2 separate regions of the Homo sapiens genome follow, and region 1 is linked to region 2. The links come from fine-mapping of genetic effects on gene expression. A gene starts in region 2. The other region holds a variant in brackets. All regions are shown on one strand. Distances are from middle to middle.

Region 1 (5,382 bases), 62 kb after region 2:
CTCTACCAATATCATTACCAAACGTTATTACTTTATTCTTCTCTATTTCTAAACCCCTGAGGAATATAACACATTCCTGTCATTAAGAGAAGCTGCTGACTTGAAATGGGAGTTCAGTAATGGCAGTGAGAGGAGATGAAGTAACACCGTTGGAGGAGGTCAGAGCACAGGGTGCCTTAAAAACAAGCCACAGCATTTGGACTTTATTCTCCTTATTTATGCCATCCTGTTTATCAGTATTGATCTGCAGCACTCCAAGGTCCAAGGGACAAAGGCAAGGAAATCTCCAACCTCTCAGAATATGAGAAGATACTATAGTAAATATGTCAATAAATTTTATTCTACAACAGCTCTATGTGGCAGGTTCTCATCTCCATTGTACAGAACAAGAAATTAAGACTCAGAAATCTTAAAGGATTTGCTGAAGGTTGCATGGCCCTTATAAAATGTTACCAGCTCATTTAACTTCAAGACCTCTTCCTGCTATGCTCACACTGTTTGGAAAGTCACATTCTAATCAGACTTGATGGCTAAATCAGTCAGAATCAAATATGCCCACCTATGTTGACATGCTGTGTAAAGATTTTCTGTTCAACGTGAACACATGGTTGCAAACTGATGCCTTAGAGTCTTTGATTGTGGGAGGAGGTCCCTGGGAACACAGACTAGCCTGTCATTGCAGTTCACAGAAGGCTGGACTCAGGACCTGGTGTTCACTGGCAAAACAAGCAGACACTTTGATTCCTGCTGCCCAGTGTGAATGAATACATTTCTACAAATATTTCTGTAGAGTGAGCCACCTTTCCACATCATATGATTGTCACCCTCTCATATCACAGTGCCGCTATGCATTGCATAAAAAAAAATGCTCAGGGGTATTTTCCAGATAAATGGAAGAAGTAACCATATAAGTGTGATTTTTTTCAGCAATTTATATCCATTGATCTTACCGAGTTCTTCCCAGAGAACATCTCTTGCAGATCCGGGTTCTCTCATCGTTTTAGCATTTGCTTAGCCGCTTGTTTGCCCTTCCCAATGCCCAGTTATCACATGTAAGATAAGCATTAAATTGCATATTCCCTGTATTTCACAGTGAGTAAAAGTGAAGGATCTGGTCTCCACCTCTCCACCTCTTTTACGACACTGTTATCATAACATGAGACCCAATGGAGCACATAGGCTGTCACAGATAGTATAGTCTGAAGGTCAGGAAGGGCAGGATGGTAGAAAGCTGAAATAGCCCTGATCAAAAAGACAAGGAGAACAAGGTGGTTTTGAAATATCTGCTAAATCCAGATCCCCAGTCTTGAATCATGATTGGAATTGCTTACTTCAGTTCTATTGATAAATCAGATTTGAAGTCTCCCCTCCTTTGCTTAAGTCACCCCTTAAACAAAGGGGTGATAGGATAAAATCTGCAATTTAGAAAGACAATTTTGAGAGCAGACCAGAGGGCAAGTTGTGACCTTCAAATATGTGTTTTGATTCATTTGTATGTGTTTTTTTTAGAAATATTTATTGTAGACCTAAATTTTAGAGAATATTGAGGCCTGATGAGATAATATAATTGAAAATACAAAAACTGTTCTAAAACTATACATAACTACTTATAGATATTGCTATTGTATTTGATAAATAATAAAAGTAATATTATTGCATTCTAATAAGTAATGTAATTCAATACACTAGTAGTCTTATTGCATTTAAATACAGCAAGGCTACTGCATCATAAAGCAGTACACCTGTGGACATGTCAACATTCAGAACTTCAGCTTTCTCATCAGTAACCTGAGGATAACACTCCAAGCTTCACCATTGGTTAGGGGCATCAATGAGATGAGGTGCATTGAGGCATCATCATGGAGTTTGGCATGTGGCTTCTTTTTTTTTCTTTTTCTTTTTATTTTTTTGAGATGGAGTCTTACTCTGTCACCCAGGCTGTAGTGCAATGGAGCTATCTTGGCTCACTGCAACCTCTGCCTCCCGGGTTCAAGTAATTCTCTGCCTCAGCCTCCCAAATAGCTGGGATTACAGGCGCCTGCCACGACGTCTGGCTAATTTTTTGTATTTTTAGTAGAGATGAGGTTTCACCATCTTGGCCATAAACTCCTGACCTCGTGATCCACCCGCCTCGGCCTCCCAAAGTGCTGGGATTACAGGCGCGAGCCACCGCGCCTGGCTGGCGTGTGGCTTCAGCCACACTTGCAAGATTGAAAATATGTACATTGTCTGATAGTGGAGCAGGTAATGTGCCAGAGGAAACTTGTATTCAGTAGCAGGAGGGTAGAACTGCTCAGGGAATTACATGATCATGTCCTGGAGCTGAGAGGTGTCCAATCTGACTGGTGTCACTGTTATTAGTGACACAATACTGGCATGTACCCCCACCTACTTGAACCGTGTGCTTCATGTCAACTGTAAGAGGCTGGTGGGATTGGTATCCCCATTTCATAGACAGTGAACATATTCAGAGGTAAGTAGCTTTCCACTGTTAATGCAGTGTCCTAAGATGACAGTAAACAACAAATGACAAGGCCGTCTTGGGAAGAGCTTTGAATGTCATCTCCAAAGAGAACTGTGACATGCAGTCAGTTGGCCTAATACCATATTTTTACACTGTAGCTAGGTAAGCTGGGGAAGGGTCATTGGAAGCATATAATTTGGTGTCTGACACTCTTTAATTGAAATCCTACCTTGTGATGCTTACTAGCTGTGTGACCCCAAGCCAATAAATTGCTTATATGAGCCTTAGGTTCCTCATCTATAAAATAATGGGAACACTTACACCCACCTTGACTTTGAAAAGTGGAGAGCAGTCATGGACAGAGCAAATGCTCAGTGTGTGTCACCTTGTCACCTTCTTGTAAGCTTTCCTGATTATTCTCACTCCCAAAGAATATGAAAGCTCAGAATTGAATAAATCAAAGAGATTCAGAAACAACATTAGATTCATATTTAGACAGCAATTGATTTTTTTCTTGGGTAAGAAAAATTATACATCTGCTTCTAAAATATGAAGAGTGGTGATTATGATTCATGCACACATGATTCATAGAGAAAGCTGGAGCTAAAACACAGCTAAACTAATAATATTTTGTCCTTGTGACTAAAGCTTGTCTAAGCTTAGAATGTGTGCCCAGAGTTAGAGCAAGAATCCCAAGGGCAAT[G/A]TCAATGCTGCTTTTATTTAGTAATAGTGGCATAAGCAGAAATGCTTGTTTTCCCAGAACCCATCTCCGTAAGGTGGATGCGTTTGTGTCTTCTGCAGCTGCTCCCTTCTCTTCATCCACTTGGTTTCTATGTATGGTTGATTTCTGATAATGATACTCAGAGCCAGACTTCACCCTCTCTGTCCTGGGCTATTGCCACGGGTTTTAACTAATGTCCCAACCTCTGATTTCTCTCCCTCTCCAGCAAACCCATTCTCTCTTCTTACTGGGTTGAGCTTCTTAAATCATTGGTCAGAAGTCAACTATGTGGCTAAGAAAACAAGTCATAAACTTGAACATCAAAGAGATTTGGGTAGAATCCTAGATTTATCATCTCACCATGTGAGCTTCAGCCACCTGATCTTCCTGAGCATGAATTTCATCAACTATGAAATAGAGATTACATTTATTTAATACTCTTTTAAAATTATTTTATTTATTTATTTATTTATTTATTTATTTATTTATTTATTTATTGAGACAGAATCTTGCTCTGTCATCCAGGCTGGGAGGGCAGTGGCATGATCTCTGCTCACTGCAACCTCTGCTGTCCGGGTTCAATTGATCCTCTTGCCTCAAGCCTCCTGAGTAGCTGGGACTACAGGCATGTACTACCACATCTGGCTAATTTTTGTTTTTTTAATAGAGACGGGGTTTCACCATGTTGGTCAGGCTGGTCTTGAACTCCTGACCTCAAGTGATCTGCCCTTCTCGGCCTCCCAAAGTGCTGGGATTTACAGGCATGAGCCACCGTGCCCGGCCTTAATAATCTTTTTAAATGAAGATTAAAGATATATATAAAATACCTTACACAGTTCCTGAAATATAACAAGTAATCAGTAAATCTTGTTTTCTTTTCAGTGACTCTTCATTGCTGGAAAAAGTCAGATCTAATTTTATTATGACTTTCTAGGCCTTCCACATGTGTCCTCTACCCTTTGCTATCTGTATACAGTGGACTGCTCTCCTGCCTCTTGCCTCATTGTTCTGTCTGACTTTGTATTTTCCCCGTCAGTCCTCTGGGAACAGATTTTGGATGGACAATGTTCCATTGTCATTCCTTCCTGTGTGCCTTTTGGTTGGGTACCTGGACTGTTTTACAAACATTAAGGTTTTCTGGGGCCCCGTCACCCCCCAACAAATTGAATCAAGCTGAGCCATGGATCTATACTACTGTGTCTAATTTGATGTATATTCATCAAGAATGTACTGTGTGTTCACTCTGTGTTAGATGTCATGGTACATGTGTATCGGAACCAGCTATGGTCATTGACCTTAAGGAGTTCCTATGCTAATAGAAGATGAAAGAGCAAAATATCTACCAGTTAGATTTTGCCCTCTTCTGTTAGTGATGATTAGATGGGAGGTACCTGATGCTACGGATGCTATCCCTATTTTAGGGATGTGGATAACCTGCTTAGGGCAAAATAACCTGTATAACTCTCTCTATATATCAAGCAGAAGGAGAAAAGTACCAAGATGGGTAAGATGACACACCTGGTTTGCAGGACATGGTCAAAGACTGCACAGAAGACCATGATATTAGAGACTGTTGTTTGGGAACAGGTGCAGTTTCAGCAGACAGCTTGGAGTAGTGGAGACCATGCAAGCTTTGGATCCAAAGTGTAGGAATTTGAATACCACTCTTGCTCCTTACCAGCAAGTCCCTCTATCTGGGAAGCTCTTTCACAGAACCTAAGGCCTGTTCATTCTTATCATTCAGGGCTACATTCAGGCATCATATCCTGTGAGATTCCTTCTCTGAACACGTTTTATAAAGGAACATTTTACCTTTATGCTGACTACAATCACTTTCATATCAGACACTGTTGGGGTCCAGTAGTCTCTCCTCTTTTGTGCCAACTTTGTTTATACATGTATCCCTCCTCAACACAATTTAGGGGAGAAGGAGCCTACACCCATCCCCAGGGATCGTTCTGATGGGTATTAGCCAGTTGTGCTGGTCTCCTTCCCTGCCCAGTGGCTGGTTTAGGGGAGGACACATGACACACTTCTGGCTGATGAAGTCTGGTATTGTTGGTTATCTTTGGGTGCCTCTGGGAATGATTTTGTTTTCCTCCCAAGAGAGGCATTCTTAGGAGTGGCCTTTCCTCTGGAGGATGCTCTCTTCTCTTCTTGACTCTCTGTCAATCTGAGTCTGGAGTATCTGTATTCC
Region 2 (5,382 bases):
TTTTTGGCTTAAACATCAAAATGTTTTATAAAAGTGTATGTTGAGGTCAAGTGCAGTGGCTCCCACCTATAATCCCAGCAAGGCTGAGGCAGGAGGATCATTTGAGCCCAGGAGTTTGAGACTAGCCTGGGCAACATAGCCAGACCCCATCTCTACAAAAAATAAAAACCTTACCCAGGCATGGTGGTAGGTCTACAAAAGATAAAAAACTTTACCCAGGCATGGTGGTAGGTCTATAAAAAATAAAAACATTACCCAGGCATGGTAGTCCTACCTACTTGGAGGGGCTGAGGTGGGAAGATTGCTTGTGCCCAGGAGTTAAAGGCTGCAGTGAGTTAAGATTGTGCCACTGCACTCTAGCCTGGGTAACAAAGTAAGACCCTGTCTCAAGAAACAAAAAAATAGTGTATGTCAAAATTCTCACTCTCACTCTAACCTCGTCAACCTAGTTCTTCCACCCATCTTCACCCTCATAGCTAATAGCTACTTCTCCAAGTTTCTTACATAGCCTTCTAGCGTATTTTTATGCCAATGCAAGCAATACAAATATGTGTATCTGTCTCCTTGTTTCACAACAGTTGTCTTATTTTAATATTATCTTATTTTATCTATTCTGCACTTTGCTTTTTCACTTAATAAATCATGGAGCTGTTTTATCCAGACAATACATCCAATACAAGTAAATCCTATGCTCCTGGCATATCTCTACTGCTGGGGACTAGAAAATGCAGAGGAAAATAATGAGTGCTTGCACTGACTTTCAAAAATAAGGTTGCATAAAAATGCAATGTCAATAGCAAAATAAATGCCATATGGTTATGAACACATTTAAGAGACAAATATTGTAAAAGAAAAGCACCCATTTTCTCTATTGAGAAATTCATATTTATTTGCCATTCACCAAACATTTACTGAGGGTATGCATTGCCCTGGGCTTGCTGGGTGCTGTGGGGAGGACAAGCAGGGTAGATAGCTCAGAGCCTCCATCTGCCCAGGCCCACTATGTCAACAGCCTCCTTAGGACACCTCTTTCTGCAGCCTTAATCCCCACCCTAGCCAGCACCACACACACTTCAACTAAGGTGATCTTCCCTTCATTCCCACCCAGCCTTTCTCCTGCTTAAACTGCTTCACTGCCCTCCTCCCCACCACCTTCCCCATTCCCTTCCCATCCTAAGGGTCACATTGTCAAATTCCAACCCCTTCACTTGGATCGCAAGGCCTTTGGTGTGCAGTGCCTGCCCTGTAAACCTCACCACTCGCCTGCCTCACCTCTCCTTGCCTGCTGCTGCTAGGTTCCTGCTGTTCTGTCCTGCCTCCAGGCCTCTGTACCCTGCTCCTCTTGTCCTGGAAAGAGCAGTCTTCTCTACCCTTCACCGCCCCACTCATTTGTTCTTATACCTTTTTTTCAGGTATCTTTCCCCAATTACTTGCCCCTGCCCCCAGCCTGACAGGGTTAGAGACTCCTCCTGCCAACTGCAATTGCCTGGTTCCATTCCCTGCTTCCTCCTGGGGTGTGAGTTAGTGCAGCCCAGTCTAATGGGGGACATAGTCATCCTCTAATGCCTGGTTCCATTCCCTGCCTCCTCCTGGGTGGAGTTAGTGCAGCCGAGTCTAGTGGACGGGTCACTGGGCTTCCGAGTCCCAGTCTTGGCTCCTTCTCTAAGGCTGTTTTGTCATCTGTCACAGGCATGCCACGAGAACTTGCCAGCACAGTGGTGGTGATAATTAGAGTTCCCAATGCCCCTTAAGAATGCTCAGTAGACGGGAGCTGGCTTAACCCTCCCCAATCTTCCTCTCCCTCCTCCGTGGACAGAATCTCACACGTCTGTGAACCCCCACGTTCAGCATGAAGTGAGGAGCCCATCGGATGACGGGCCGGCTGGCTGGTTGAAGGCCACTGCTGACTTCGCATTGGAGGTATGGGTTGCTCAGCGCTTTTACCCTTTCTCAGGCATCTACTTGTTGCCTGGGCTTCTCTTCCAAGTTCAACAGTCCCCTCCCAGCCAGTTCTCCGCCGCGCCCCGCCCCCGGATATCTGCAGGGACCCTTTTCCTGCCCGAGGCCTGGGGTCTTGGCTCGAGAGGGGAGCCCCGCCGCGGGGACTGAGCATGCTCGCGCCGGTCAGTCTGGGAGGGCCGCACGCGGGGCCGCAGCCTGCGCCCTGGGCACCCGGGCGGCCGAGCGGGCGGGGTTTGGCCGCCGGGCGGCCCGCCCCGGGCTCCCATCAGGGCCTCGCGGCGGAGAGGGACCGAGGTGGGAGCGCGTGAGCCGCGCCGCCAGCCAGTCGCGCAGCGTCTACCCACGCGGTGCGCAGCGGCTGCGGAGCGGAGCCAGCGGGAGCAGCAGGGCGGGCTCTCCCGGCCGCGAGGGCGCGCGGCGCGGCGCGGAGGGTCTGGCCGCGTCCCGGCGGAGGAAGGAGAGGAGTGAGGGCGCCAGAGGTGAGCGCAGCCCGGGAGGCGCCAGCCCAGCGGCGCGGGCGCAGCCGGTCGGTCCTTGCTTTCTTGCGGCGCTGGCGGCTGCGTTCCCCCGACCGCGCTGACAGCCTCGCGTCCTGGCGCCTGCTCGCTGGGGCTGCCCGGAGGCCGCGGCCGGGCAGCTGTTGCACGGAGAGGGGGGCAGTTGCGGGGTTCCATAACCATAGCAACCGCATCAGCACCGGCGGCGGCGGGCGAGGGCAGCATCCGCTCGCTCCTCCTCCAGGCAGCCTCGCCGCGGGGACCCAACACCAGCTCGCAGGTGCTGCGGACTCCCCAGTCCGCCCGCCGCCGCCGCCGCCGCAACTGTTGGCGGCCAGAGACGGCGAAAGAGGAGAGAGAGGGACCCAGGAGCGCGGCCCCCGGGGGAGAGAGAGGGGAGCCCTGCAGTGGAGACAGGTAGGTGAGAGCGCTTCGGGGTCGGCAGCTGCAAAACTCTCTCGTCGGTGGTAGTGACGCTTCTGCAAGCGTGGTTGCCAGTTGGATGGCTTTCTGTCACGGAACAGCGATTCCGCCGCAAAATGTGGTTTATCTCCCTCGATTTTCCCCAGTCTCTCTGCCCTCCAGGTTTGCTGCACATCTGGACAGGTCTTGAGGGGATAAGAAGGGCCAGGGCTGTGAAAGGAGCGGAGAGGCTGGGTTAATGAGGGGTTCCCCCCAGGAGTCCCAGATGGAGGCTGAGGGGGCGCATGCAGACCTTGGCCATTGGGGTCCTTGGAGCCAGGGAACCCGGGGGCCAGGCTCAGGAGAAGACCGCACTGGGGTGGAGGGGACAGTGGCAGCGATTCCCTGTGATCCAGGCGAATGCACAGACCCGTTCTTCCTGTGGCTTGGCTGGGGACAGGGGTGTGCGGGGACACTGCAGCTCAGCTGTGACATGGAAAGGGACCAGCTCTTGATCTGTAGAGCCAGCTTCAAGCCCAGTCACTGGAGGGGATGTTTAGACGAGGCAAGTAGTAACTGTTATTATTTTGGGACACAGGAGTATCATGTTATTGCCGTTGACTATTAGGGATAGGATGGGAATAGAAATAAAATTTTGAGCTAGCAGTCAAGACTATGCCCTCCCCTTCTCCCCACCTCATTTCTAGCTCCCCACCCCACTTTGCCAGCAAAACAAGAATCACATCGCTCATAGTGACAATCCTTGCTCCTTGGCCACTGGCAAACTATCTCGCTTTCAGACAGCTGGAGACACCGCTTCAGTTGTCCATTTGAACCAGGGGGCATTGTTTTCCATCAGGTTATGATGCTCTTGATGTTAAGTGATGTGTCAAAGCCGAGAGGCACCTGGGCTGTCCATACAGTGTGATGGACTGTTAACTACATCTGCAGGCTGGAGAGAGGGCCAGAGCTTGGGGAGTGATTACAAACTCAGATCAGCTGGGACCAGGGCCCCGGAAGAAGGAAGATAGCATGTGAATAATTAGGGTCTGAAAGTTCGTGCATGTAGGTAAGTAGGCCTCTGAATAATATCCAGGATAGGCAGCCATTGACTTTGAAAGGGCTCTTCCTTTATATCGTGGCCTCGGGGGACAGTCTAAGTCCCAGTTAAAAGGCTATGTTCTTTAATTGGGCTTTTAATTTATGGTGTGGTTATGTTACCCAAGGGGATGTGATTTGGCCAACCTCTCATCTGGAGATTTATGTCATAATATGGATGATGTTATCAGAGCTTAGACAGATGGTTAGGTGTAGAGGAAAGTGGACCAGATTGGAGGGTCAGAAAACATGGATTTGAACTCTGATTTCCTCATGCACCTGCTGTGTGACCTTGAGTTGTTCCACCTCACTGAGGCTTCTTTCTCTCATCTGGAGAATGGGGATACTAACTAACAAGTCTTGCAGTTTACCAGGCTCAATCACAATCCAATGGGATGTGGAGAGGATGTTTGGGAAGGGCTTTTTAAAACCTGATGTCTTGTGCAAGTAAAAGGGATTATTGTTTTCTAAAGAATCTCTCTTCCTCAGATTGGCAAATCATTAAACATCCATCAACTACGAAAAGAGAGTGGAAATATTAGTCAGTGACTCACAGTGGAAACACTGTAGTCTGGTCCAAGATTCACTCAGGGCAACATAAAGAGGGCTTCTCAGGGGAAAATGCTGCATGCCATCCACCTTGCCTACAAGTGCTGAAGGTCAAGTGCTTTGCCATCAAATGCAGCACTCGTCTAGTTTGAAACAGTGAGGCCTGCTCACAATGGGTGGATTAAGTTTTTTTTTTTTTTTTACAGTATAAACAGAGATTTAGACAGAGTAGGGACTCATTTAACTGTTCACCTCGGGTTGTGGGTTTCTCGTGGGCAGGATTACTTTCATCCAACTCTGCTCTGTAATGTCAGGTGTTTACCAAATATTTGCTCAATTTGACTGAAATAGACTGAATGCTGACAGGTTGATTTTATTGCTGAAGGAATTATAATTTCTGGAAGGAACCAAGACTGTCTTATACTATTCTCTGCTCTTTTATGCCCCTGATTTTGCTCATGGTGGTGTCCCTGCCTAGAATAACAATTTCTCACTTCTTTCTTCCTTTAACAACCCAACTCAAATGCCCCTTCCTATAGGAAGCTTTCCCATATTCTCTCATGTGCTCCCACAACACTCTGGACCTCCTTTGTGATGGACTGTGCTGTGTCATCGCTTGCACACATACCTGTCCTTTCTGTTGATTTGATGCTTCCCAATGATAGGTGCCTCTCCCTATCTGACTTTGGTTGTGGCTGCAGCACCTGGTGCAGCCATGGCCATGATGAATGGTTGTTGAATGAGTGAATGAGCCTTACTTCTAACATGACCACCTGTGCAGACGTAGGCTGCAGAAAGGCCATTCCTGGCTGCTTTTGCCATCTCGGTCTGTGTGGCAAGCCTGGAGGATGCTCCATGGCTTGTTGTGCATTAT

Which allele goes with the higher level. Alleles are on the strand shown, and positions count from the first base shown. SD is a standard deviation of normalised expression in the study named.
In carriers of allele G in region 1, the expression in subcutaneous fat of the gene that starts at base 2,286 in region 2 tends to be lower than with A alone (moderate effect, 0.48 SD a copy in GTEx).

Evidence for each region. PIP is the estimated chance that this variant, and not a neighbour inherited with it, causes the effect.
Region 1: its variant is fine-mapped to the expression of FAM135B in subcutaneous fat (GTEx, PIP 0.98).

What each region holds. Positions count from the first base shown.
Region 1 is chr8:138,431,825-138,437,206 of GRCh38, reverse strand. The region is part of intron 1 of FAM135B (family with sequence similarity 135 member B); the gene reads left to right. Among named protein-coding and RNA genes, the nearest start is that of FAM135B, 63 kb to the left of the region's middle. The variant G/A (reference allele first, on the strand shown) is at 3,168.
Region 2 is chr8:138,494,165-138,499,546 of GRCh38, reverse strand. FAM135B (family with sequence similarity 135 member B) reads left to right here and starts at 2,286. Exons shown (of 20, transcript NM_015912.4): 1 at 2,286-2,876.